2 linked regions of the Homo sapiens genome follow. The protein of the gene in region 2 purifies or fractionates together with the protein of the main gene of each other region. This does not show direct contact. Each region holds a gene or a part of one and is shown on either strand. Other genes may lie near its edges.

Evidence for each region. The genes of interacting proteins can lie anywhere in the genome.
Region 1: the proteins of TRIOBP (region 2) and RAI14 purify together in Homo sapiens (affinity purification with mass spectrometry; 2 studies listed by BioGRID and IntAct, with this or other methods). This does not show direct contact.

What each region holds. Positions count from the first base shown.
Region 1 is NC_000005.10:34,651,237-34,659,748, forward strand, and holds the start of RAI14 (ankycorbin), read left to right. Parts: upstream 1-5,091; 5' UTR 5,092-5,239; intron 5,240-5,254; exon of another isoform or gene 5,255-5,460; intron 5,461-6,017; exon of another isoform or gene 6,018-7,836; intron 7,837-8,512. UniProt on the Homo sapiens protein: Plays a role in actin regulation at the ectoplasmic specialization, a type of cell junction specific to testis. Important for establishment of sperm polarity and normal spermatid adhesion.
Region 2 is NC_000022.11:37,720,602-37,728,135, reverse strand, and holds part of TRIOBP (TRIO and F-actin-binding protein), read right to left. Parts: intron 4,952-7,534; coding exon 1,633-4,951; intron 1-1,632.

The sequences.
Region 1 (8,512 bases), on a different chromosome or scaffold from region 2:
TGACTCTGTGCTTTGTGGAAACCACTTCTCTTAGTCTTCTGATAACCCATTAACTGCCTTCTTGATGTTCATGAACTCCTCATAATACCCTCCTCCAGCACCGTAATTGGAGAATATTTTATGGAATTTCTGATATGCATAGCCGAACAACCAACTTGGCCATACTGATGGCTATTTGGATCTTAAAAATGTCCTTTTGAAGAAGAGAAGGCCACCAAGATTAGCTTTCCATTTTTATTTGCCTGTTCCAAGGCTGATGTCGCTTGGGTCCTAAGTGCTCTCATAGCAGTCTTCTGCCTGCAGAACGGGGAGAAGTAATGAGGTCAATATCAGAGTTTGTAAATACAGGCAGCCTGAAGACAATATACAGAGGAGTGTTTCAAAGGTCCACTCTGGTCAGGCATCCAAGCTTTGATTCTCGGCTCCACTCTTTCTGGTTTTACGACTTGGGCAAGTTGCTGGATCTACTTGAAACTCAGTTTCTGCACCTGTGAAAACAGGGTAATACTACATCCAAGTTGCTGTGAGGATTAAGAAAAATCTCCCACCTACTAAAATTTCAATCCTATGTTAGCTCTTAGCAGAGAGTGTTGCACAGCAGTTAAGAATGATGCCTCTGGAGTCAGCTTACCCTCGTTTAAATCCCAGCATTGCTACTCACTAGCTGAGTGGCTTTGGGCAAGTTACTTAATCTCTCTGTGCTCCAGTTCCCTCTTGTGCCCCAAAGGGATAATTATACCTACAGGGCTGATGTCATGATTAAATGACCTAACATTAGGACGACCTGACATCCCAGTTTGCTTAGGACAGTTCCAGTTTCTGCCTTTAGTCCTAGTGTTCTGGCTGGCTTAGAAGTTACCCATCCTCTTTCACTCTCAAAATTGTCCCAGATTAGACAATTAAGTAGACAGTCATCATAGTTAATATATACATGGCATAGAAAAGTACTTAGTATAGAATAGCTGCTAAATATGTGTTAGCTGCTAATATTAGCTCCTACAGCAGTACTAACCAATAGAAATATGTAAGCCATGTATACTTTTAAATTTTCAGCAACCACATTTCTAAAGGTAAAAAAGAAATAGGTGAAATTAGTGTTGAGATTTAACCCAATATATCCCAAAATTATTTCAATGCCTAATATAAAAAGTATTAGTGAGACATTTTTTTCATTTTGTAAAATACTAACTCTTTGAAATCTGGTGTGAATTGCATTTACAGCACAGCACAATTCAGACTAGCAACATTTCAAGTGTCCAGCAGCCATGTGTGGCTAGCAGCTAACATGCTGCCCAGCACAGCTCTGAGGATTTATATTCCTCCCGTGTGATGATGGACCAGAGAGTCTTACAGCCTTCTCAGGTCTGTAATGCCGAGTTTGAGATGCTTAGCTTCTCTGCCACACTCTGCAAGCAGGGCACTGATGCAGGTCTTCGGAATGTATTTATTGCCAAAGATCTTAGCCTCGTTTCCTCGGCAGGTGCCCAACCTCACTGAGAAGAATATTGTAGTAGCCTCTTACCCTTGGAGAAATCTCTGCTGACTCCCTGGCAAGTGGAAAAACCATGAGCCAATTAGTGTTTTGCAGGCTACTTCATTACTATGGTCTTACTAATTATGAAAAGGAATGCCAAGGTTATTTTATTAATTTTCCCATGTTACAGTTTTCTTCTATTTGGAAACATCCCCAGGAAAATACAAAAAGTGTTTTTTCTATGAATATTTGGACTTTTTCTGGTAGATTATCTCCCTCCAACCTTCTGATTGTGTTATTGCATTTTTATTCTATTCTCTGGACTGGGTCCAATATCTCCACATTCCTCTAAATCATGCTGCCTCTAACTAGACCCAGAAGTACAGTCAGCTCCTGACCAAACACCAAATAAAGTGGAGAATGACTTTTTGGCTGTGGTGTGATATCTATCTCTCCTTCCTCCTGCAGGGGCAGTTTCTTGTTATCCCAACAAGTCTTAGCTTTGGTTCCTCAGACTTGGGCAATCAAGATACTCATAATCTAAGAAGAACCAGTATTGATGAAGGATGAGCAAGGAAAAAGGGATGATATCATTTAATCTCAAGAATAAAAATTGAGCCCACTCAATCAATGAATTTCATTTGTGATGTCCTGGATGGCAACACTCTTTGGAGTTTACAATTGTATTGCTTTGACAAGACTGACCTGCTAGTGTGATCAGAAAACAATGTTTCGTCATGAAATGACAGGGCAGTTTTGCTTATGAAGGGTCTACAAACTAAGAGAATAGGTTTAGGATGTCAGAACTGAAAAAGATCGGGTATGGTGGCACATGCCTGTAATCCCAGCACTTTGGGAGGCCGAGGCAGGCAGATCGCTTGAGCCCAGGAGTTCGAGACCAGTCTGGGCAACATGGCGTAACCCTGTCTCTACCAAAAGTACAAAAAAAAAAAAAAAAAAAAAATTACCGGGTGTGGTGGCCCACACCTGTAGTCCCAGCTAGTGAGGTGGGACCTGGGGGCTGAGGTGGGAGGAAAGCTTCAGCTTGGAGGTTGAGGCTGCAGTGAGCCATGATTGTGCCACTGCACTCCTGCCTGGGCACCAAAGTGAGACAAAGATAGAAAGAAGACAGAGAGAGAGAGAGAAAGGAAGGAAGGAAGGAAGGAAGGAAAAAAAGGAAAAGAAGGAAAGAGAGAAAAAAGAAAACAAAAGAAAAGAAAGATCTTGGAGGTCATGTACTTTGATGTTCCCTTCTACTAATGAGGAAAGGGGGAACAGGGGAAGTTAAAACCCTTGGTGAAGGTCAAATGGCAAGTAAGCAAAAGAAATGGGTCAGGAAACCCAGTCTCCTTGCTCTTGGTGCTCATGGCACTACATATTACACTGCTGTTACCTTGATATTTGGATAAAGGAATGCAACATACTGCTCCTCCCAAAAGGTTTTACTACTTTACACAGGTTAGCTGGTCATTTTATTTTTGCTTCTTTAACTCAACCCCTTTCACCTGGGCCTAGTTCTCATCAAAGGGTGGTATTCAATGTATCCAATGAACCCAATTAGCATTTCTAAAACGCCTGGGCAACACAACCAATAAGAAGATGCTATTGAACCTCTTACTTCCCCACTAATCCCCCTGCAGTTGGCAGAACTTAGCTGCCATGCTCAGTCTACAGACTACAAAGTTGCTTTGAGTTTCAAAAGTGGGGATCTGGAAAAGGATCTTGGCACAGCCCAAAAAAATAAGAATACTTTCACAACGATCCCTCATCCAGAGTTAGACTTGCTGACTTTAGAGGGTGGGAGTGTAAACTAAGGAGAATCATATACAAACCACCTATGGGAATCTAAGAGGTGATAGGCTGGTAGGCTCTTTGGAGGTGGCTGGGACAGAGAAAAAAGAAGAGGGACAGGACCTCTGTGAATCAAAGTCAGATGTGCCTGCCTTAGACAATCATTGTTTAATGTTGTCTAATATTTTAACTCCTTCAAAATGTCAACTGTTCCTACAGAATACACACATGTCAAATTTCCAAGACAGCATCATCTACCTGTACCATGCTCCAAATCCCATCCTCCCAGCTGCCCCTACTTGAACCAGACTGACCTGCAAAAATAGAGCAGAAAACTCACAGGCAGTAATGTTCCCCTTAAATACCCTACAATATGTCATTAACAAGAATCACGATGAAACACTATTGTAGAAATTGCCAGCATTAAACCAAAAGAATGTTGGTCAGTTCATGTTTCTTTTACAGTGTGACTTTGTTTGAGAGGGATAAAGGACAGGAAGAGGAGTGTACATCTTGCTTTAGCTGTTCCTCACTTGGCTAAGGAACTTTTGCTGTAGGAAGTGAAGACCCTGCACCTAGTTACAAGGCTTTTGATGCTTGTTTGTCAAGTTCAACTGTTAAAGGGGAGATAGGCTCTTCCCTAGTAGGGAGAGGGAGGAAGGAAAGGGGGATGGGGCGGGGGGAGGGAACAGGTAATATCTGCCATATAAATATTAGTATGTAGCTGACACGTTATAAACTGAGCTGTTAGGGTGAATTTCAATTTTGTTGGAATCGACCTTTTTTCCCTCTTAAGTTCAATTGACTTACAGTAGATCCCAGAAAGAACTCAATACGTTATTTATTCTAGAAAGCTTTCTTCCCTGAGCAAAGGAGGCAGAGCTAACGAGGAGAAGGGAGGAGCTTAGGTGAACAGAACTGAAGTCACAGCTGGTTAGCATGACTAGAATGCATGGAAAAGCCAGCCCAAATTAGATGAGTGGGTAGATAGAGAGCTTTGAAATCCTTGGAATTAATGGTGGAGTCCATCGTAATTGAAAGGTCGGGCCTTAGTGGGCTGGGATAGGGAGAGAAGCTGTCGGGGACCTGGGGCAGTGAGCCTGTACCCCGTGGCTTCTCACACACTATTTTGAAGGCGTTCCCATGCGCAATCTCGCCTGTCAGTTCAGGCTGTAGGTTTCTCCTTTCTAACTCCTGAGCAGAACAACACTGAACGGTGGTAGTCTTGCCTTGCCACCCAATGAGTGCTAGAAAACAGTCACTTCAACCAATTGGTTCAGTCCGGAGAACGTGAGCACATTCTACTTTACTTTCTGTTCAATGATTTTGGAAAACAACCTTTTAGATTCTGGTCAGAAGGGGCTTGGATCCGTGACTTTGAAACACTCGCCACTACCACAAACGACTTTGGAAGTTAATCAGAAATAAACAGTATCTGGGATCTCATCCGTCCTAAACCCAGGGGTCAGAGCGTGGGGGGCTTCCACTAACTTCAGGTTAAGAGGATGAAACAGATCCGCGGAGAAGGGTCCCACGATCCCTGGAGACTAAAAGCAAGCCACGAACAGCCGGGACGCGCGGGCCGGGGAGATGCGCCGGGGGCTGGAGGGCGGAGAGCACCCCCCGCAGGTCCCGGCCAGAGCCCGGGGCCGGGTCACCTGACTCGCGGAATTTGGGGCCGCGAGGGGTGGAATGGGAGGGGAATGGTTAGCGCCTCCCTTCCCGCTCCCACTGGATCCAGGTCGGCGGGGGCCGGCGCCCGGCGGCCACGTGGTGGTGCTGCCGCTGCCCCCGCCCCGCCGGCCTAGCCCGGGAGCTCGGCGCCCACTGACCCCCGCAGCGGGGGAGGAGGAGGGACTGCGGCGCAGGAAGCCGAGCAGGAAGCGAGCCCGGCGGCCGCGTTTTCCTGGGGAAGCGGCGGGCGGGGTGGAGCAGCCAGCTGGGTCCGGGGAGCGCCGCCGCCGCCTCGATGGGGTGAGTGCGCGGCACGGAGTTGGGAGGCTCCCGGCGCGGGGTCCCGGGCTCGTGTCCCCGCCTTTGTGTCTGGAGCTCGGGCGCGGGAGGCGCTGGGGACGGCGCCCGGGCGGAGCGGCTGAGCGGGCTGCAGCCGGGGTCCCGCCACCTCTCCCTGGTCCACCGCCGGCAGCCCACTGTCTGCGGAGAGCAGATCTGGGGACAAGAGGAAGGAGAGGAAGGTGGAGATGAGGGTAGAGCGGGAAGACCCGGCCAAGTTAGGAGAAGGGTTCTTCCCGGGTCCTCCGCGACTCGCAGGCCGGCTGGGGCGGGGCGCGGGGCAGGGGCCGCGGCGGAGGGAGCGCGGGTGGGAATGAATGAGCAGACCCGGAGATGCACCCTGGAGTCTGCGCCGGGTCCCACCTGTTTCGCCCCGCGCGGCGCCTCGCTGCCCCCGCGTCGGTGCTGCTGAGCCCAATCCGCCTCCCGGCTGAACTTGGAGGAGGTGGGGAGGGAGGTGCGAGCGGGAGACTCCGGGTGGCTCCCAGGACGCGGGGTCCGCTATTGTTCCTCCTCTGACTCCAGGGAGCCCCTCGGCCGGCCCAAGGGCGGGGGCGAGACCCCTCTGGGCCTGCCCCTGCCCCCTACCTTGTTTTCCCCGCCGCAGCTCGGGGAGAACGGATGCTGGAGTTGGGGCAGACTCGGGGCCGCCGGGACTTCGGGAGTAAGGAGGACGTGGAGCCACCAGAAAGGCGCCCGCCATCTCCCGCGACCCCTGCCTGGTGGGGGGTGGGGGGTGGGGTGTCGTCCTCAACCACCTTCGCTGCCTTCTTGGGCAGGTTGGTGTCGGTTTAGTTTCTGCGGTTTGCAGGGTTGACATCCTAACTCCTTTGAGTTTCGCATCCCCCTTTTGTGGAGGGGGCTCAGAGCCTGGAGAAGCAACAGACGGGGAATTAAGGCAGATGCAGCCCAGCACAGCGTGGAGGGGTCCGAAGTGGCCTCACGGGGGCCTGAGCATGGCTGTCTTTCCAGGCTCCTCTTTATTTGCCAGGAGCCCAGCTAAGCCCAACTTTACTCCCAGAAATGTTGAGGGGAATCTGCGGACTCGAGGCCCCTCGCCTCGGGACCAGCGGCTTCTCTTCGCCGCAGCTCACGCATGATCGGGGTGGGATTCCGTCTTCCTTCCGGGAGAGGAGAATGCCCAGCTGCCTGGGATGGGGAAACGTTGCCGGATCTCTGGGGAATGTGGTCTCAAGGCTGCAGGGGCCTGGCAGAGAGGAACTGTCCATCACTAGGACATAGCCGAAGCTCGCCTTAGCGAAGAGAGTCTCACCTCCTCGGGCTTTGCACAGAGTTGGAGAAGAGGTCGGGAATCACAGGGAGGCTGGATTTTGGCTGCTCTGTCCCCAGCCTGCAGGTCCCTGTTCGCCCTGTGGCTCGGAATTTTATTACTGATGTATATAATCTGATAATCTTTTCTTAATGATGCCTAACAAGTGTGATTTTTTTCCCCCTTGGGTTTGTAAGACAGTTGATTTTATGTGAGGAGATTGATCCAGTTCTTATATTTTAGCCAGTGCTTGTCTAACAGAGATTGGGAGAGCTATCCCGTGCTGGGCTGTTGCACAGTTTTCATCTCCATTCACTGAGATGCTTCAGTAATGAATTTATTGTTTTATGGCTTTTTGGAGATGGTGGTGGTGGTGGTGTGATTATAACCCTGCTGGAAAATCTTATTACTGTTATCTGAATTGAAGAGACAGAAAGGATGCTGAGCCCCCTAGGGATTCCGTAGGGGAATGATGTAGTGTCCCGCCCACCAGTAGTGAACCTGACAGTGAAATTCTCTCTCCAGTCTGCTAGTTTTCAAAGCATGTTCTAGGCAGGTACACGTACTATCACCTAGGCTTTAAAAGTGAAGAAGCAGATTTGGAGGTTAAGAACAACTGGGCCTTGGAATTAATAGAATGCAGTGGACAACTTTTGCCTCTCCTTCCTCCACCCCCTCCCTCCCTTCCTTCTTTCCTTTTTTTTCATCCTTTAAAAATAAAAATAAGGGCCAGGCATGGTGCTTATGCCTGTAATCCCAGCACTTTGGGAGGCCGAGGCAGGCGGATCATGAGGTCAGGAGATCGAGACCATCCTGGCCAACACAGTGAAACCCCGTCTCTACTAAAAATACAAAAAATAAAAATTAGCTGGGCGTGGTGGCACGCACTTGTAATCCCAGCTACTTGAGAGGCTGAGGCAGGAGAATCGCTTGAACCCGGGAGGTGGAGGTTGCAGTGAGCTGGGATTGCGCCACTGCACTCCAACCTGGCGACAGAGCAAGACTCTGTCTCAAATAAATAAATAAATAAATAAGTATGAAATATTTCTAACATACATAAAAACAGAGTATAGTAAGCCATTTTGTCTTCTACTTCCTAGGTTTAATAGTTGCTAATATTTTCATATTTGATCCATACCTCTCCCCCCCCGGAAAAATAAACTATAACTTAAATATTTGATCTATTCCTACTCCTTTGCCTCCATCCTCAGGTAACCTCTAATGTGAAGTTAGCGCACACAGTTCTCAAGCATGTTTGGAACTACACTGTATCCACAAAAAAATACATGTGAGTTTGTGTTTAACATTTTACATAAATGGCATAATTCTACCTATGTATAGCTTGCATTTTTAACTTACTATGTTTTTGAGATACATGTGTTAATAGATCTTTATTCACTTTAGCTGTTACAGAGAATCCCAGTGTATGAAAAAAGTATAGTATATTTACTCCCTTGCCAAGAGTAAGTTAGGGTTTCTGGTTTTTCACTGTTTTTTGTTTGAGCTGCGGTCTCGCTCTGTCACCCAGGCTGGAGTGCAGTATCGTGATCACTGCTCACTACAGCCTCAATCTCCTGGGCTCAAGCAGTCCTCCTGCCTCATCCTCCAAAGTGGCTGGGACCACAGGCACATGCCACCATGCCTGGCTAATTTTTTTCATTTTTGTAGAGACAGGGTCTTACTATGTTGCTCAGGCTGGCCTTGAACTCTCAGCCTCAAGTGAGCCTTCTACCTCAGCCTTCCACAGTGCATGAGCCACTGTGCCTGGCCTAGTTTTTCACTGTTACACTTTTTCTGCTGAGTGACACTCTATTTCCATTTTCATTTTTATTTTTATTTCTTTTTACTATAACAGTTTGTACAATAAACATCCTGAGATGTTTTCTTGTGCACACATTTTTCTGTTACACACTTATTTAGTTAGTTGCTGGGTAATGAAGTTTAGGTAATATTGCATTTATTAT
Region 2 (7,534 bases):
TGCAGATTCAAATCCAGGAGAAAACTTTCCCAAGGAGCAGCAAAGAGGAATTTTAGATACAAAATATTCCATACCCTTTAGGGTGATGAAAATGTTCTAAAGTTAGATTGTGGCAATGGTTGGACAACTTGGTAAATAAACTAAAAATTCGTTGAATTATATACATGGAAAGTTTTGAGACTTCCAGACTGCTTTTTGTTGCTGTTGTTCTCTTGACCCTAACTAATGGAATTCTAGCTCTGATTCTTGAAAACTCGAGGGCTGGAACTTCTGGGGAGAGAAACCTCAGCCTGATCAGGAGGAAATGCTCCCCTTCCAGGGGGCCAGTGCTGCTGACCAAGGAGACTCAAAAGACACCTGGACTTCAGGTGTCCCAGGATGTTTGACTGCTAAAAATCCATAATTCTGTGAGCTTTCTTTCTTAAAATAGGTAGCTCTGGCCATACATTTTTATTTTATTTTTATTTTTAGATGGAGTCTCACTCTGTCACCCAGGTTGGAGTGCAGTGGTACGATCTCGGCTCACTGCAAGCTCCGCCTCCCAGGTTCAAGCAATTCTCCTGCCTCAGCCTCCCGAGTTGCTGGGACTACAGGCGCCCGCCACCATGCCCAGCTAATTTTTTGTATTTTTAGTAGAGATGGGGTTTCACCGTGTTAGCCAGGCTGCTGTCGATCTCCTGACCTTGTGATCCGCCCGCCTCGGCCTCCCCAAGTGCTGGGATTACAGGCATGAGCCACCGTGCCCGGCCCTGGCCATACATTTTAAATTGACATAACTGTTTTCTGAAATGCATAGGGACCCATGAGTTTTCTTTGCCAAGGCAGGAAAAAATCATGGGTACTTTCTTCTTCTCCCTCATGCACGGAAGAAAAAAAAAAAAAACCCATGAGTCTGGATCAAAGGGTTTGAGAGTTCACTCTCATTTTGGCCGGGCACGGTGGCTCACTCCTGTAATCCTAGCACTTTGCGAGGCCGAGGCGGGTGGATCACTTGAGGTCAGGAGTTCGAGACCAGCCTGGCCAATATGGCGAAACCCCGTCTCTAGTAAAAATACAAAAAAATTAGCCGGGTGTGGTGGCACGTGCCTGTAATCCCAGCTACTCGGGAGGCTGAGGCAGGAGAATCGCTTGAACCCAGGAGGTGGAGGTTGCAGTGAGCCGAGATTGCACCATTGCGCTCCGGCCTGGGCAACAAGAGCAAAACTCCACCTCAAAAAAAAAAACAAAAAATAAAAAATAAAAAGACAGTTCACCCTTATTTGAATGAATGTGCTCATGTTCCCCTCCCTTACAGATGAGGAAACTGAGGCTCAGGTAGGTTAACTCACTATATCAGGTCATACGAGTTGACATGTGGCTTTGACCCAGGATTTGGACTCAGCCCTCCTGACTGCAGTCTTTGCTGTTAACCACTGGGCTGTGCATGACATCACTTAACCACACACACACACAAAACAGAAAACTCCCAATATGCAGAAACAGAGAAATGGAGCGATTTGCCCAAGGTCACACAGCCGGTAAATGGCAAGCCAGGGGGATTTGAACACTTTCTTTTGGCACCCTAACCCTTCACCTGTCCTGCTGCCGAGCCTCCTCCCCAGCCCACCTGGCTGACCCCACCCCCGGGCTCACCTGCGCTCTTGCCCGAAGAGGCGCTCCACCTCTGCACGGCCAGGGCTGTGGGTGCGGCCCCCGCTGCTGCACTGCGCCTGGGGCCCTGGCTGTCTCTGGGCCAGCCTCCTGGGTGGGGGCAGGTCGGCCAGCACAGTGTACTCCTCCCGCTCCAAGTTGTGCCTGGTCTCCCCGGGAGGCGCTGAGCCCCGGGAGCCCCCAGAGCTGCCCGGTGAAGGTGAGGGTGCCAGGAACGCTAGGTCACTGGGTGGGTGGCGGGGTGGGGAGGAGGCTCGGGGTGCATCCCGGTGCCCGATGCACACTTGGGGGATCAGCACTGGGGAGCCATGCAGAGAGTCAGTGGAGGGGGCCAGGCTCTCCATACTAGTTCCAGGGGGATCCTGGAAGAAGAGGGATGGCTCAGGAGCCTGGCGTGGTGGGGATGAGAAGGAGGGTGCATCCCGGTGCCCAATGCACACAGGGGTGGGGATGTGGGGGCACTCGTGCAGAGAGTCCATGGAAGGGACAAGGCTCTCTGTGCTGGCCCTGGGGAGGTCCTGGAATAAGAGGGAAGGCTCTGGGGCCTGGCGTGGTGGGGAGGAGGCCCGGGGTGCATCTCGGTACCCAATACACACAGGTGCAGGGAGCTGAAGGGGCTCGTGTTGGGGGGACTGACACTGATGCTCGGCATCTGATGTGTCTGGGAGGAAGGGGAAGGGGTCAAATTGGGTGTGGCGGGGGGGCGAGGACGCCCGGGGGGCATCTCGGTGTCCAATGCACACAGCAGGTGGTATATAGGGAGGCTCGTGGTGGGGCGGTTCACTCTCAGGGGCGCGGGGCTCTGGGAAGAAGGGGAAGGGGTCGTGCTGCAAATAGCGAGGGGGCGAAGAGGCTCGAGGGGCATCCCGGTGCCCAATGCACACAGCACATGGAGGCTGGGAGGGCTCAGGAGAGGTCAGGGGAGCCCCATAGGCAGCGGGGTACACAGGTGAGGAAGTTCGGGAGGTGCTCTGGTGGCCTGGGTTATGGGAGGAAGAGGTGGCCCGGGATGGCAAGTTGTACTGGGTGGGGCCAAAGGAGGACTGGGGTGGGTCATGCTGGGCTGGCCTGCTGGGAGAGGATGTCTGAGGCCTGTCACCTTGGGTTGGCCGGAGGGCGATGGATGCCCAGGGAACCTCGCTTTGCTTGGAGCGAGATGGGGAAGAGGTTCGGGGACCATCACTCTGAGTTGGCCGGAGGGGAAACGAGGCCCAGGGGATGTCTTTGTTAGTACGATGGGGAGATGAATTCCTGGGATTGTTCCATTGAGTGGAGCGGTGGGGAGATGATGGTCTCAGATTCTCCTTTTGGGTGCAGCATTGAGATGAGGAGGTTCCAGGGTTGTCTCGTTGAAAGGAAAAGGACTGTGTGCGGTCCCGCTGTGTACAAGTGGGTCTGAGGTTATCTCGTTTGGTACAAGAGGTTTTAGGGTTGTCTTGTTGGGTAGAAGATGATCTGGGGATGTTCTGTTGAATACAAGTTCTGGGGTTGTCCTGTTGGGTGGCTCTGATGGGAGAGGAGGCTCTGAGATTGTCCCGCTGGGCACAGGATGTTCTGGGGTTGTCTCGTGTGGCTCTATTGGGAGAGGAGGTCCTGGGATTGTCCTGTCGGGTACAGGATGTTCTGAGGTTCTCTTGTTGGATGGTTCTGTTAGGAGAGGAGGCTCTGGGATTGTCCCGCTGGGCACAGGATGTTCTGGGGTTGTCTCGCTGGATGGTTCTGTTGCGAGAGGAGGCTCTGGGATTGTCCCGTCGGGCACAGGATGTTCTGGGGTTCTCTTGTTGGGTGGTTCTGTTAGGAGAGGAGGCTCTGGGATCGTCCCGTTGGGCACAGGATGTTCTGGGGTTCTCTTGTTGGATGGTTCTGCTGGGAGAGGAGGCTCTGGGATTGTCCCGTAGGGCACAGGATGTTCTGGGGTTCTCTTGTTGGATGGTTCTGTTAGGAGAGGAGGCTCTGGGATCGTCCCGTCGGGCACAGGATGTTCTGGGGCTGTCTTGTTGGGTGGTTCTGTTGGGAGAGGAGGCTCTGGGATTGTCCCGCTGGGCACAGGATGTTCTGGGGTTATCTCGTGTGGCTCTATTGGGAGAGGAGGTTCTGGAGGCTCTGGGATTGTCCCGCTGGGCACAGGATGTTGTGGGGTTGTCTCGTGTAGCTCTATTGGGAGAGGAGGCTCTGGGATTGTCCCGCTGGGCACAGGATGTTCTGGGGTTGTCTCGTGTGGCTCTATTGGGAGAGGAGGTTCTGGAGGCTCTGGGATTGTCCCGCTGGGCACAGGATGTTGTGGGGTTGTCTCGTGCAGCTCTATTGGGAGAGGAGGCTCTGGGATTGTCCCGCTGGGCGCAGGATGTTCTGGGGTTGTCTCGTGTGGCTCTATTGGGAGAGGAGGTTCTGGAGGCTCTGGGATTGTCCCGCTGGGCACAGGATGTTGTGGGGTTGTCTCGTGTAGCTCTACTGGGAGAGGAGGCTCTGGGATTGTCCCGCTGGGCACAGGATGTTCTGGGGTTGTCTCGTGTGGCTCTATTGGGAGAGGAGGTTCTGGAGGCTCTGGGATTGTCCCGCTGGGCACAGGATGTTGTGGGGTTGTCTCGTGTAGCTCTACTGGGAGAGGAGGCTCTGGGATTGTCCCGCTGGGCGCAGGATGTTCTGGGGTTGTCTCGTGTGGCTCTATTGGGAGAGGAGGTTCTGGAGGCTTTGGGATTGTCCCGCTGGGCACAGGATGTTCTGGAATTCTCTCGTTGAGTGGTTCTGTTGGGAGAGGAGGCTCTGGGATCGTCCTGCTGGACACAGGGTGTCCTGGGGTTTTCCCGCTGGGGAGTACAAGTAGGAAAAGAAGTTTGGGGGTTGTCCTGCTGGGTAGAAGAGGTTCTGGGGTTATCCAGTTGGGTGCTTCGTGAGGGAGAGGAAGCTCTGGGGGTGTTCCACTGTGTAGATGAGGCCCTGGGGGTGTCCTCTTGGGTGGATGAGGCCCTAGGGGTGTCCTCTTGGGTGGATGAGGCCCTGGAGGTTTCCTGTTGGGTGGATGAGGCCCTGGAGATTTCCTGTTGGGTGGATGAGGCCCTGGAGGTGTCCCTTTGGGTGATTCGATGGGGAGAGGAGGCTCTGGGGATTTCACGTGTAGAGGCAGCCTGAGCAGTGTCCCTTTGGGCAGGAGAAGCCTGAGACGTGGTGCTTCGAGGTCCACTGTGTGGTGTCATGGAGGAAGCCTGGGTCAGTGTTGACCGGTGCCGCTCCAGGGACAACCCGCTTTCTCCCCGGAGCCTTGCCCAGTGCTGTCCTGCGCTCCGGCCCCCACCGCCGGTGTCTGGAGAGAGAAGAGAGGGGCTCAAGGTAAGGGGAGAGGTCCAGGCAGCTCTCATATTCTACCTTTCTTTGTCCCTTAGGACCAGTGATTAGGGCAAACCCCACACCCTCCTCCTACAGGTCTCACTGTCTGTACCAAGTGACTCCACCTCTCTGACCAAGGCTGATTAGACAAGGGCTTGGATGCCTCTCTCAAGCTGAGGTCAAGAATTTGAAATTGAGACCCTGACTCACTCAAGAGATGGGTTCAAGAACTGGAAGGCCACAGGGTCTGGGGATCCACGGACAAGACAGAGAAGAAGCAAATTTGTGGAGAGAAGTGTTGACAATGGCCTGTGTGACCCCAGGGAGGGAGAGGTGGGCCCAACAGCAGCCACCTGACAGTCTTCCCTTCCCAGTTCTATTTCCTTCAATCAGAATCCAAGGAATTCCCCCCATTTCTTGTTTTGTTTTGTTTTTGAGTCAGAGTCTCGCTCTGTCGCCCAGGCTGGAGTGCAGTGGCGTGATCTCGGCTCATGGCAACCTCCGCCTCCCAGGTTCAAGCCATTCTCCTGCCTCAGCCTCCCGAGTAGCTGGGATTACAGGCATGCGCCACCATGCCCAGCTAATTTTTGTATTTTTAGTAGAGACGGGGTTTCACCATGTTGGCCAGGCTGGTCTCGAACTCCTGACCTCAGGTGATCCGCTCACCTCGGCCTCCCAAAGTGCTGGGATTACAGGCGTGAGCCACCATGCCCGACCTTTTTTTTTTTTTTTTTGAGACAGAGTCTCGTTCTGTCACCCAGGCTAGAGTGCAATGACGCGATCTCGGCTCACCGCAACCTAAGCCTCCTGGGTTCAAATGATTCTCCTGCCTCAGCCTCCCAAGTAGTTGGGATTACAGGCATGCACCACTATGCCCAGCTCATTTTTGTGTTTTTAGTAGAGACAGGTTCTAATGAGCCTGTTTCCTGTGCGACAGCTCTAGAAAGCCCCTGTTTTTTTGTATCCAAATGTTCCTACCCTGAGGCTTCTCCTAGGGCTGCCATGAGGATAGGAAAGGTGCAGGGATGGACAACCTTTTATAAACTGGTAGCTGGGAGTTTGCCAGAAATGCAGAATCTCAGGTCCCAGCCCAGATGCACTGCTTCTGGATCTGCATTTAACAAAACTGTCTGGTGATTTGTACACCTTATAGTTTCAGAAGCACTGGCCTAAAGGATTAATGTAACTGTCCTCAGTAGTGACCCTCTTTGCAACTCCTAGCCTCATGACAGAGTTGCCATGACCTTGGTGTGTCACCCTCCACCCCGCTCAATCCCTCGGTCACCAAGCAGGTGTTGAGCACCCCTATGTACATGTCCCTTGGCTACTGCTTTAGGTGAAGAGTAAAGGGTATCATGGCCTCATCTTAAAGGAGCCACAACTATGGGTGTGGTGGCTTACACCTGTAATCCCAGCACTTTGAGAGGCCAAGGTGGGAGGATCACTCGAGCTCAGGAGTTCCAGACCAGCCTAGGCAACATGGCGAGACCCTGTCTCTACTACAAGTTTTTTAAAACTTAGCAGGGCCTGGTGGTACGTGCCTGTAGTCCCAGCTACCTAGGAGGCTGAGGCCGGAGGAGTGCCTGAGCCCAGGAGGTGGAGGTTGCAGTGAGCCAAGAATGTGCCATTGCCCTCCAGCATGGGCAACAGAGCAAGACATTGTCTTAAAACAAAAAACGAAACAAAAAAGTAGCCACAGTTGCCTTCATGCAGATCCCCTCCCTTCACGCCTTCTTAAGATCCCCTGTCCTCTCCCTTTGCAGCCACTGCCTCGTCCAGCCTCTCTGGGCTGGTGTTGGTGAAAGTCTGAGTTCCCAGCACCTAGCAGGGAATTCAAAATTTGCAAGGTTGCCAGGCACGGTGGCTCACGCCTGTAATGCTAACACTTTGGGAGGCCAAGGCGGGTGGATCATCTGAGGTCAGGAGTTCGAGACCAGCCTGGCCAACATGGTGAAACCAGTCTCTACTAAAAATACAAAAATTAGCTGGATGCAGCCGGGAGCAGTGGCTGATGCCTGTAATCCCAGCACTTTGGGAGGCCGAGGCGGGCGGATCACAAGGTCAGGAGATCGATACCAGCCCTGCTAACACGGTGAAACCCCATCTCTACTAAAAATACAAAAAAAAAAAAAAAAAATTAGCCGGATGCAGTAGTGCATGCCTGTAATCCCAGCTACTCGGGAGGCAGAGGCTGGAGAATTGCTTGAACCCGGGAGGTGGAGGTTGCAGTGAGCTGAGATCTGGCCACTGCACTCCAGCCTGGGTGACAGAGCGAGACTCTGTCTCAGAAAACAAAAAACAAAAAAAATTGCTGGTGGCTGATGTCCCATGGCATTCTAAAATACGTTTCATGCCTGGTAGTGGCTCACACCTGTAATTCCAACATTTCGGGAGGCTGAGGCAGGAGGATTGCTTGAGCCCAGGAGTTGGAGACCAGCCTGGGCAACATAGTGAGCCCCCATCTCTACGAAAAATAAAATAAATACATTCCATATTCACCTGTTTCTCTCATCTACACCCACTTCCTACTCCAAGCCACCACTATTTCTCTCCTGGATGG